3 separate regions of the Homo sapiens genome follow, and all the other regions are linked to region 3. Evidence: fine-mapped expression QTL. A gene starts in region 3. Each other region holds a variant in brackets. All regions are shown on one strand. Distances are from middle to middle.

Region 1 (4,054 bases), 41 kb before region 3:
AAAAAGCTGTGGGATGAAAAGGAGTAAGAAATATAAAGGAGGAAGTAGATTGGAATCCTGGGTTTCGCTGGTCAGAGAAGTGATTTGGGGCCTTTTTGTCTCATCCTCAGGTAGCTGTGAAGATCATTGACAAGACTCAACTGAACTCCTCCAGCCTCCAGAAAGTAAGCACATGGCACCTCCTGTCCCTTTTTTTTTTTTTTTTTTTTTTTTTTTTGAGTCAGAGCCTCACTCTTGTCGCCCAGGCTGGAGTGCAATGGTGTGATCTCGGCTCACTGCAACCTCCGCCTTTTGGTTTCAAGCGATTCTCCCGCCTCAGCCTCCCGAGTAGCTGGGATTATAGGCACCCGCCACCACACCTGGCTAAGTTTTGTATTTTTAGTAGAGATGGGGTTTCACCATGGTAGCCAGGCTGGTCTCGAACTCCTGACCTCAAGTGATCCGCTCGCCTCGGCCTCCCAAAGTGCTAGGATTATAGGCGTGAACCACTGCCCCCAGCCCACCTGTCCCTTTCTAAATCTCTCTTCTGGGGTCAATGATCTACTGACCCCATTTAGACCTTCTCTTGAATTCCTAGTTTAAATTTTCTGGCCATTTCGCTCACCGTCCCCCAACCATTCCCTCCCATGGCTCTGCTACCTTCGGGGCTTTGGTTGGATCATCTGTGGTGACTCCTCCTGAGTGGGCTTCCTGGCCATAGGCACTGGCTCTTGTGAAGTCTTTCTGTTCATTCCCAGCCACTTGGCCTACCTGTCTGACCTACTTCCTGCATCTTGTTATCTTCTGGCTTGTGGCCAGCCCTATGCAAAAACACATGTTTGTAGCCACTACTAGAAACACGTGCAGCTACTTCAAGATCTGGAATGATACAGGGGAGTGGCTTTAGAAATACAAGAATAAGAGGAAGCAGGGAACCTGCCGGTGGGTTCTGTGCCAGCTACCTTTTAGAGAATGAGCTCCAGCTCAAATTTTCTGAACAAAACCTAGTTCTGTTCATCTTGTGGCAAATCAGATATTTTCTCCATAAGCATATTGTGGCAGTTGAGTTAGGAGAAGGCATGATTCGTGCTAACAGAGTCAGATAGTGATACTGGGAACCTTAGGAGTAAGGGCTGAGGATTGTTGTTGAGGGCGATGCTCATGGAATTAGAGTGGATGAGTTGTTCTCCGGACATGCAAATAGCCAGAACCAAGGTGTTTCCTATTTATTGTTACCCCTGGGATCCCTTCAAGGGTTCTTCAGTTCAGTAGAAACATTGTTGTCATCATCAGGGTGTCTCTGCTTGAAGCTTTCCAGGAGGAAGGGAAAAAGGGCTGCTTATGACATCCTGGCTCCAGCCCCACAGAAGAAGTCAGCGTGGGGTAGGCCATTTGGCCTTGGGAGCAGTCTAGCCTGCCATCGTAATAATCGCCAGTCCACCAAGCCATCTTATTCCTGACCTTGTTTTTCTCCCTAATTCTTCTTGGTTTTCTCCCTAATTCTTCCTGACTCTCTGGAAGGCACCAACACCAGACAAATAGAGCCATTTTCAAAACCTTTTGAGACTCTTTGTTACTAAAGCCAGTCTGATTCTGGCCAAAAATGTGATCTCAGCAATGATCCCTGAAAAATGAACATTGAAGAAGCTAGCCCCCTCAGGGGTCTAGACAAGCCCAGAAAACCCCAAGTTCTCCCAGAAGAATGTCACTTCCATGCCAGGTGAGCAGCCTCAGGGGAAGAAGCCCTGGCAGCTGCCTCTGGCCCTATTTCAGAGCTGCTCCCCATTACTGCCCCAGAGGGTGGTATCCAGGCTTTTTGCCTCTCCATCCAAAATATCTGTTGGACCAGGGAAAAAAGTAAGAAAAACCTAGGCCCTAATAAAGGGTAAGGTCAGCATTGGGTTCCTGAGGATTGGAAAGCCTTTTTCTTCTTTTCCTTTCTAGCTTAGGAAAGCTCTGGG[G/T]CATCATTAAAGGGGAAACAAATGTATTCACTTTATTCCATAAACCATATCTTGAATTAGGGCTTCCCCTACCCCCAACAAAAACAACAACAAAAACTAGTTCTGTTCTTTGTGCAAGTGATGAGGCCTGAAATTACAAAAAGCCCCACCTCCAGTTCTCTGGCCCCCGCAGAGGGGAAGGAGTTCATTTCTGTCATCTTTCTTTATGGAAATACATGGTTTGGAGCCCCTGGTTTTGTTTCACAAAGAGAGCGTGAGTGTGTGGAGGTGGATTTGATTAAAATTGGCATCAGCTATATATAGGAGTGGCTTCTTCTGTCACCACCCTAGAGGCCCAGGAAGGAAAGGCCTATCCCCTAGAACAGAGCCCTCTGACTACTGTAAATCAGAAAATGATGGGGTCCCCCTCTGGTGCTCTACCACCCCTTTACACAGACCAAGCTGGGGTGTGTACTGTCACTGAACCAAGGCAGCAGCTCGGATTCTGAATATTCACGCACACGGGCTCACACTCCCTCCAGTAGAGGCACCCAGCCAAAACCTGCCTGCTGTTTTGGGGCTGGATTTGGTAGACGCAGCAGAGGGCATGGCTGGCTCATCCTGATGCCATCCCGGGTAGCACGTCCCCACAGCCAGCCCTCCTCCAGCTTCCCCAACTTCCCAGCCACAGGGAAGGCCGTGCATGAGCTAGACAACCACCCTATTTTCTTTTCCCTGCCCGGTTTTGGTTTTTTGGGAAAAACAAATCCTGGCAGGGACTGTTTGGAGAGACCTGATGGGAGCAAGTTGGGCAGGCATGACCCCTGGTATTTTATCTTCCAGCTATTCCGCGAAGTAAGAATAATGAAGGTTTTGAATCATCCCAACATAGGTGAGCACAAGTTGTTATTTCTTTCTTCTTCCCCAACAGCAAGGCACTGCTTTCCAGCATGTCATCTTCTCCCCGAGGTGCACTGCCTTCTGGAGTCTGCAGTCTTCAAGGATACCCCTGGGGAAGCTCAGCTCAAAATCCATCTCCCCTTCTGGCACACTGGGCTGTCTTTAGCAGTTTGGCTGGCATGAGAGGAACTTGTTCTTGGGAGTGGGGGATCATGAAAGGAGGGGAGACTTTCGTTCCTAGGATGCTCCTGGACATGTTGGAGAGCAGTATGTGGCCCCTGTTGCTTCTTGACTTAAGGCTTGGCCTTTTCTCTTGTAGTTAAATTATTTGAAGTGATTGAGACTGAGAAAACGCTCTACCTTGTCATGGAGTACGCTAGTGGCGGTAGGTGTGGAACTGCCTCTTCCTGTTGTGCCCCCACTTCTTCCACCTCCAGCCAGCTCTGACTGAGATCCCTGCCTGGTCTCTTACAGGAGAGGTATTTGATTACCTAGTGGCTCATGGCAGGATGAAAGAAAAAGAGGCTCGAGCCAAATTCCGCCAGGTAGGTGTGACTCCCTCCATAGGAGCTAGGCCTGACCTCTGCTTTTGGGGTTTGACATGTAAGGATAAGCTGCCTGTCTGTAAGTGGCCCTTGGAGGGTACTTTGGGCTCTGCTTATCCGTGTGGCAGGTTAGCACTAAGTCACAGGGTCACTGCTCTGTCAGCCCCTGTGGCCCACCCTCAGGCACCCCTGGGTTAACCCTTCTTCCTTCCTTTCAGATAGTGTCTGCTGTGCAGTACTGTCACCAGAAGTTTATTGTCCATAGAGACTTAAAGGTAAGGCATGCACTTCTCCTTGTGCCTTTGAGTGGGAGCCAGGTTGTTGCCTCTTGGTTCTCCATGATAAAACCATCAATAACCATCAGGCCCTGAGTGTTCCAGGAAACTCCAGCCTTTCTTTTTTTCTTTCTTTCTTTCTTTTTTTTTTTTTGAGATGACCAGAAAGCCCCTAGGGCTGCCTCTGATAGAGGCCTTGTGGCTGGACCTCGGGTTCCATTCTAGCCCTTGAGCAGGGGCCCTCTGCCATTTCACCTCTTGGCACATCACCTTTTAGTGCTGCCAAGCAAGGCAGGCACACTCCAGGCTTTCTCAGTCTTTCAGGCAACCTGGTAGCTGACCCAGGGAAGAGTGCTGAAAGTTCCACAGCTGTATCCCAGCTGCTTTGCAGGCAGGCACACACATACCATCTCCA
Region 2 (4,066 bases), 20 kb after region 3:
AAAAAAAAAAAAAAGAGAAACATAGCAGGCCTTTTTTACCAGGCTTTTTGTGTTTTGTTTGTTTGTTTGGAGCATGTTAAGATTTTTTTAAGATTTTTAAAATTTTAGTTATATCCACCCTATTTCAGGTTATTTTTGTTGGTGTCAAGTATGTATAGGACATGTGAATGGTTCTTTTTAATTTTTTTTTAAGAGGAAATTTGGAAGATAAACTCCTTGATATATATATATATATATATATTTTTTTTTTTCTTTAGCAGCTTGTTATCACTGGAATCAAAGGGAAAAAGTGATCTCTTCTTGCATTGGTTGTATTTGTATGTCACAAATAAAAGACACTTTGGTCAGCTGCTGAGATGGCTTCCTGATGCTGGGGCACCATGGGCAGCGTGGATCTGGGAAGCTCTGGACCCTGAGCCTGTCCCAACATTGGGCCCGAACATCAGGAGGTGCATAGCTATGATAGCCCCATGCTGGAGAAAAAACTCAGGCTGTCCGGGGCAAGCAGCCAGAGCTGGGAACAGAGACCAAATGTATGTGTTTGTGCCACTTCCCAGGAGTTCTGAGTAGAGGCCAAAGGTGTTCTGAAGGGCGCCTGCTTTGCATCTTGGAGAGAAAGTCCCAAGCCAGGCCTTGTGACATTTGAAATCTGTGTCCAAACGTAAATTCCAGTGCCCATGTGTGGGAGGTGAATAGACGAGAGTGCTTCTTTCCTCTTTGACTTCATTGGGTTACTCAAAATATTCTTTGTCTCTTAAGATTCCTGCCCTCTTCCATCCATTCACAGAAGACAAGGCTCCAAGGAAGGGGAGCTCATGTCAGGGCTGCTGGGGCAGGAGAGTTATGAGCTGGTGGAGGCTGTGACCCCCTAGTGTGACAGATGGAGCTGTGCAGGTTGTTCCCCAAGCAGGGCTCCTGCCAGCCCTGGCCCGGGGGAGCTGGAGCTCAGTACTTTCTGTGGACAGTGGAGGGGCTGCCCCATTGTACTCTGCTTGGTGGTCTGCATCTGCTGGAACGGGGAGCAGGAGACCCTGATCCACATGGAGTGTTCGTGCCCTGGCAGAGCAAGCATCTGGGGAAAGAGGAGCCAGGGTTATACCTGTTCCGTGGGTCCCAGCTGTGGCATGTTGTGGCCTCTCCCCTGTGGGCAGGGGCACACCCGCAGGTGGTTTGTGCAGCTGTCTTATCTTTGAGGCCCAAAGAAAGGCAGCACAGCCCTTGGGAAGGGAGAGCAATTTGCCTGGCGAATCACATGGCCAGTTTCCCATGTGACAGAATTCTGCCCCTCAAGTTATTTGTTCCTTGAAGGCTGTGTTTTCATCCCAGGCAGAAACTTCCTGGAATGGCCATCCCCTTGCTGAAGGGTGAATGGCCACAGTTGGAGAGCTTGGGGCCATTCCTTCATCCCTGCCGGCTGAGTGCAGGGAGAGTTGAGGTCTGCACCCATTCCTCCTCCTTCTCCACCTTCACAATGGCCTGGGCCCTCCACAGTGGCTGCTTCAGTGAGGTGTGGTGTGACTTCTGGGTCTGCCCCATGCTGCTGCCACAGCTTCAGTGGGCAGGCGGAGCAAGAGGCACCACCGCTGAGCAGTAGACAGTCCAGAGCCTGGGCTGGACTGAAAGGGACTATGTCCCCAGCGGGAGGGACGCCACTCACCAGATGGTTTCTGCCGCCAGCTTTGAAGGTAGTTCAAACTAGGGGGCAGGCTTTTCTAGTTTTGGCTAGAATACTCCCTCCCCAAGTGCAGCAGAGGTTGTTCTATACCCCTGAGGACAGACGGGGTCTGGGGAGAGGGGATGTGTTGCTGTGGAGCCTGGTGAACTAATGTGGTGGTGTTACTCCCAATCTAAGGATAAATTGCCAGCGCCATGGCTCACGCCTAGAGCCCCAGCACTTTGGGAAGCTGAGGTGGGAGGATTGCTTTAGGCCAGGAGTTTGAGACCAGGCTGGGCAACATAGTGAGACCCTGTCTCTAAAAAAATATATTTTTTGATTAGTTGGGCCTGGTGGCAGGCACCTATAATCCCAGCTACTTGAGAGTCTGAGGCGGGAGGATTGCCTGAGCCTAGGAGTCTGAGGCTGCAGTGAGCTATGATTGTGCCACTGCACTCCAGCCTGAGTGACAGAGCAAACAAGACCCTGTTCTTAAAAAAAAAAAAAAAA[A/T]TTGCAGTCATTGTGTCTTACGCCTGTAATCTCAGCACTTTGGGAGGCCTAGGCAGGCAGATCACTTGAGGCCAGAAGTTCGAGACCAACCTGGGCAACATGGTGAAGCCCTGTCTCTACTAAAAATAAAAAAATTAGGCTGGGCGCGGTGGCTCACTCCTGTAATCCCAGCACTTTGGGAGGCCGAGGCGGGTGGATCACGAGGTCAGGAGATCGAGACCATCCTGGCCAACAGGGTGAAATCCCGTCTTTACTAAAAACATAAAAATTAGCTGGGCTTGGTGGCGCATGCCTGTGTTCCCAGCTACTTGGGAGGCTGAGACAGGAGAATCGCTTGAACCTGGGAGGCGGAGGTTGCAGTGAGCCGAGATCACGCCATTGTGCTCCAGCCTGGTGACAGTGAGACTCCGTCTCAAAAAATTAGGTTGGACACAGTGGCTCACACCTGTTATCCCAGCCCTTTGGGAGGCTGAGGCAGGCAGATCACGAGGTGAAGCGATCGAGACCATCCTGGCCAACATGGTGAACCCGTCTCTACTAAAAATACAAAAATTAGCCAGGCGTGGTGGCACGTGGTGGAGAATCGCTTGAACCCGGGAGGCGGAGGTTGCAGTGAGCCAAGATTGTGCCAGATACTCCAGCCTGGGCGAAGAAGCGAGACTCCATCTCAAAAAAAGAAAAAAAAATTAGCTTAGTATGGTGATGTGTGCTTGTAATCGCAGCTACTTGGAAAGCAGAGGCTGCAGTGAGCCGAGATTGCCCCACCGCACTCCAGCCTGGGCGACAAAGCAAGACTCTCTCAAAAAGATAAATGGAGAGTGAAAAGTAACTTGCTCATGGGCCCAGTAGTAAATGGCAGAGCCAAGATTTGAACACAGCGTAGGAGGTGTTATCCCCGTTTCACAGTTAGGTAACCTGCAGCTTGGGAAAGAAAAGACAGGAGCAAGCCAAGGACACCCACAGCTGTGTACCTGACTAGGTCCCTTCCCTCCCTATGCTGCCTTGCCCCACGGCGACTGTGAGAGGCCCAGCTTCTTCCTGAGCAGGAGCTATGGGCCCCAGAGGCCTCTCCTGCCCCACCTTGCTACTCCTGGTGCTGGGGACAAGGGTGGTGTCTCCTGCTTCTGGCCTGCAATGCCAGGGTATTATGCAGTGCTGCCCTGGACAGGATGTCGGTTTCTGTGATTCCATCTACGTTCCTGGATTCCTACTATGCTGAAGTGAGCAAAGAGAACCTTAGAACCTGTATTGGGGCTTTAGGAGTCTGCTGTGGGTTGTTTTCTTTGTTTGTTTGTTTTTTTGAGACAAGATCTCTGTCACCAGGCTGGAGTGCAGTGGCACAATCAGCTCACTGCAGCCTCAACCTCCTGGGCTCAGGTGATCCTCCCACTTCAGCCTCCTGAGTAGCTGAGACTGCAGGCATACGCCATCACACCCAGCTAATTTTTGTATTTTTAGTAGAGAGAAGGTTTCACCATGTTAGCCAGGCTGGTCTCAAACTCCTGAGCTCAGGTGATCCACCCACCTCGGCCTCCCAAAGTGCTGGGATTACAGGCGTGAGCTCCCAAGCCTGGCCCTGCTGTGGAGTGTTAATTCTATTAAGGTGAACATTTAATAGTCCCTACGGACTGGCAGGGCTGGGGCTGAGGTCACATCATGTGGCGCTGGTGCTTAGTGCAGGCCACCCCAGTGCTGGAGGGAGGAGGCCCTGAGAAATGGGACCAGGCTGGGAGCCCCCTAAGGGGTGGAGGCTGTTTGACTCAGAGCAGGGCTTGGTAGGCCACAGCTGGGAGATCGGGAGCAGGGTGAGAGCCAGCTGTGGCTGATTTGGCTGTTGAAAGCCAGGCCCTGCACCTCTCTGGGGTCATGCTCTGATACAGGATGGCTCTGTTGCAGCAGGTG
Region 3 (4,066 bases):
AGTGGCGCTATCGGCTCACTGCAACCTTCACCTCCCGGGCTCAAGCAATCCTCTAACCTCAGCCTCCAGAGTAGCTGGGACCACAAGTACACGCCACCACGCCTGGCTAATTTTTTTTTATTTTTAAATTTTTTTGCAGAGACAGGATCTTACTCTGTTGCCCAGGCTGGTCTCAAAGTCGTGAGCTCAAGCAGTCCGCCCATCTCAGCCTCCTAAAGTGTTGGGATTACAGGTGTGAGGCACTGCGCCAGGCCACAACTATAAATCTTGACCTTCCCTGTGCTCTCTCCCTGCTTTTTCTTCCTTCTAGAGCCTGTATCATTTTTTTTTTTTTTTGAGACTCTCTCTGTCGCCCAGGCTGGAGTGCAGTGGCACAATCTCGGCTCACTGCAAGCTCCGCCTCCCGGGTTCACGCCATTCTCCTGCCTCAGCCTCCCGAGTAGCTGGGACTACAGGTGCCCGCCACCCTGCCCGGCTAATTTTTTGTATTTTTTTAGTAGAGACGGGGTTTCGCTGTGTTAGCCAGGATGGTCTCGATCTCCTGACCTCGTGATCCGCCCGCCTCTACCTCCCAAAGTGCTGGGATTACAGGCGTGAGCCACCGCGCCCGGCCGAGCCTGTATCATTTAACTAACTATGTATATTACCTATTTATTTCATCTATTATCGGTCTCCTCCTTCTAGGATACAAGGGTGGTGCCTATTCTGTTTCTTATTGTTGTTTTCCTTGCTGCTTGGAACAGTGCCTAGCATACAGTAGGCACTGGATAAATGTTGTTGAGGCCACCACTGTACTGAGCACTAAAGTTGGAATAATGAGGCTAAGCACAGTGGCTGACGCCTGTAATCCTAGCACTTTGGGAGGCCAAAGTGGGAGGATCGCTTGGGCCCAGGAGTTTGGGACCAGTCTGTGTAACACAGTGAGACCCCATCTCAACAAAAAATAAATAAAAATTGAGCTGCGTATGGTAGTGCACACCTGTAGTCCCAGCTACTCAGGAGGCTGAGGCGGGAGGATCGCTTGAGCCCAGGAGGTCGAGGCTGCAGTGAGCTGTGATTGCACCACTGCACTCCAGCCTGGGCGACCGCGAGACCCTGTCTCTTAAAAAAACAAAAAGATGGAATAATGAGCAAAACCTGAAAAAGTCCATGAAGCTTAAGTGTTGGGCAGCATTTCACTAATTTTCGTCTTGAAGCATTTCACTAATTTTCGCTCCCTACCTGGGGAGCACTAGGAAGTGAAGACTCTGGCTCCACCCCTGGAGATTCTGGGGGAGGTTGGCAGAGGTGTGCACACTGCGGAAGCGCCCCCGGCGGTTTGGATTCGGGTCACGTGCGGGTCACTCCGGTGTGCTGGGGATGGGTTGAAATTAAAACTTTCCGGGATGCCTGGTGTTCACGCTAACAGCACTGTCCACTCTCTCCTAAACAGTGCTTACGTGCCCGTCTCCCCTCTAAACCCTGAGGTGTGGCGCTGAGATGGCACCTCGCTCCTCTCTGTGCCCCCTGGGCTCAGCACCGCGTAGATGCGAGTTAATTTTTATTGAGAACGTGAATGAATGAGGGGGAATGAATGGTTAGAAGACGAATGAATGAGTAACAGGACTCTGGTTAGAAAAGGAATTTCAAGAGTCAAGATCTGGAAGGTGGGAAAGTTTCCAAAGACTTCCGCTACGCGCGCTAGGGCTCTGGAGGGGCAGGTACTTTAGAGGTCGAGACGCGATTGGCCGCCTGGGAAGGTGGCTGTGCCGCCGGCTGCTACGCGCGGGGCCAAGGAGTCGCTGGCCGCAGGGGAGGTGCTGCCAACCACCCGGCCCCCAGCGGCGCGCGACTCACGGCCTGGGTGAGCAGCCAGGCCTGGCGCCGCCGTTGCCATAGTTACAGACGCAGCCCTGCGAGGGGGCGGGCTCTGGCCGCACGTCATTCCCGGCGCGACGCTCCTCCGCGCTCCCGCCTCCTCCTGGTCGGAGACCCTCGGCCAGCCTAGCGGGCGCTCCACCTGCGCGCCGGCTCACCGCTGCCCTGCGCCGGTTCTGCGCCGGCGCGGTACGAGGGCGCGCGGTTGGGCGGGGGGGGGGGGGGAAGCTGCGAGGCGCATGCGCGTTGCAGGGCCGTCCGCTCTGCTGCCGCCGCTGTTGCAGCCACCGCCGTTGCCGCCTCCCTGCCGGCAAGTGTGTGAAGAAGAAGCTGAGCGTTGTCGCCGCCGCTATGGGGGTGAGTGAGGCAGAGAGAGGAGATGGGAGGTCCAGGGGCGCTCCTCGCTACCCTCGCCCCCTTTGTTCTTAAACCCCCCTCTCACGTGACCCCGACCCCCTCCAGCCTCACGTGACCCCTGACCCCCACATGACCCGACTCCCCCATTCTAAGGGTCCCTACGCTAGGCCTAGCCCGGGAATCCTCTGGAGAGCCCCTGGTCCGGGGCCCCACCCCCTCGGCGCCCCCAGCGTCACGCCCGCCCCTTCCTGCTTCGCGGACCCGTTACTGGCCTCCCCACCACCGTCCCCCGCGGGGACCCTGGGGTTAGCTTCCCGCTCCCCCAGGGTCACTCATCACCTGGCTGTCACCAGCTTCGTCGCTTTTCACATCCGAGGTCAACCCTGGCTTGGAGGGAATTGAGGCCCAGAGGAAAGAAGGCGCCTAGCCAAGGTCATATTGTCGGGGGCGTCAGACCCCACCTTGGGCCTCCCGAATCCCAGTCCACTGCCCTTCCCGTTACTCGAGTCTCAGCGAAGCCGGTTCCCCTACACTCTTTCGAAACCTCTCCACCAGGTTCCTGCTGCTCCTGATAAACACAGCCTTCCTTTCCCATAGACTCCTGCCTTCGACGCCTCCTGGTTGCAATGAAATGGTTCTTACGACCGCTTGGGTTGTTAGGGGTTTTGGTAGTGCAGGTGTTTTTTGCAAGGGGAGGGCTGTGCAGGTGTGCGGGGAAGATGCGGGGAGGCGGGGGCGGCGGCCCAGCCGCGGATGGATATTGACCACTTGTTCCGTGCCGGCAGCCTGGAGGTGCATTTTAGTTTACTTTCCCGGGATATAGGGTAGGGCAGAAGTTATTTGCAAGTTTCTGTGCGTTCACCTTACTAAGTCTCAATTACAGCAGTATCAGTCACCCTCCTAAAAAGATAACGCTTTTCCTAGTATTGGCTGTATTCTTTTTTTTTTTTTTTTTTTTTTTTTTTGATATGGAGTTTTGCTCTTGTCGCCGAAGCTGGAGTGCAATGGCGCGATCTCGGCTCACTGCATCCTCCTTCTTCTGGGTTCAAGCGGTTCTCCTGCCTCAGCCTCCCCAGCAGCTGGGATTACAGGCGCCCGCTACTATGCCCGGCTCATTTTTGTATTTTTAGTAGAGACAGGGTTTCACCACGTTGGCCAGGCTGGTCTCGAACTCCTGACCTCGTGATTCACCCGCCTAGGCCTCCCAAAGTGCTGGGATTACAGGCGTGAGCCACCACACAGGCCTATATTAGTATTTACATGGAATTTCCATCACCTTAAGGGAACCCTGACTTTGGAGCCCGAGGTACCTCACTTCCAGCCCCGTCTTCGCTGCTGGTGGTATAATAGTGTGCCAGTGAGTTGGCCTTTATGTGTTTGAATTTCCTCACCTCTGTAATTGGGATGCTAATACCTCCCCCTTAGGGTAGTAGTGAAGATTAAGTGAGATAATGGATGTAGATTGCTAAGGAGGTGTCTCCTAAGTAGTGGCTGTTATTTTTGTCTGTATCCTCAGCCTTAACTTTACTGATCTAAAATGGATTTGTGCTATTTTTAACCCATTGGGTTTGTCCCTACTGTTGTTAACCTAGTTTTTTTTTTTCCCGTCACTCCACTATTTATCGACTGAACAAATCAACTTATTAGACAAAAATAGTTGTCTAATCCGTGTCAAAACAGTCATCGTGTTTTAACAAATAGTTTTGGGTATTACGTACTTCATATGTAGAAAACCAAGTCTAGAGACCTTAGGCATATTTAACCTAAATTTTGGTGAAAGGTCCTAGACACAGCCATTGTTGAAACTAAATGAAACCTGTGTCCCTTAGTAACTGTCTAACCAGAAGCAGCC

What was found. PIP is the estimated chance that this variant, and not a neighbour inherited with it, causes the effect. A credible set is the group of variants that fine-mapping cannot tell apart.
Region 1: its variant is the best candidate, but not a certain one, in a credible set for the expression of NAA40 in whole blood (TOPMed, PIP 0.79).
Region 2: its variant is the best candidate, but not a certain one, in a credible set for the expression of NAA40 in whole blood (TOPMed, PIP 0.60).

Annotation. Positions count from the first base shown.
Region 1 is chr11:63,895,470-63,899,523 of GRCh38, forward strand. MARK2 (microtubule affinity regulating kinase 2) reads left to right here. Exons shown (of 19, transcript NM_001039469.3): 3 at 111-164; 4 at 2,763-2,811; 5 at 3,139-3,204; 6 at 3,294-3,364; 7 at 3,583-3,639. Among named protein-coding and RNA genes, the nearest start is that of RCOR2, 20 kb to the right of the region's middle. The variant G/T (reference allele first, on the strand shown) is at 1,941.
Region 2 is chr11:63,956,973-63,961,038 of GRCh38, forward strand. NAA40 (N-alpha-acetyltransferase 40, NatD catalytic subunit) reads left to right here. Exons shown (of 8, transcript NM_024771.4): 8 at 1-347. Among named protein-coding and RNA genes, the nearest start is that of COX8A, 16 kb to the right of the region's middle. The variant A/T (reference allele first, on the strand shown) is at 2,165.
Region 3 is chr11:63,936,889-63,940,954 of GRCh38, forward strand. NAA40 (N-alpha-acetyltransferase 40, NatD catalytic subunit) reads left to right here and starts at 2,114. Exons shown (of 8, transcript NM_024771.4): 1 at 2,114-2,214. The coding sequence starts at 2,209. RefSeq lists enhancers at 1,117-1,617, 1,856-1,995 and silencers at 1,716-1,765, 2,026-2,105, 2,035-2,220.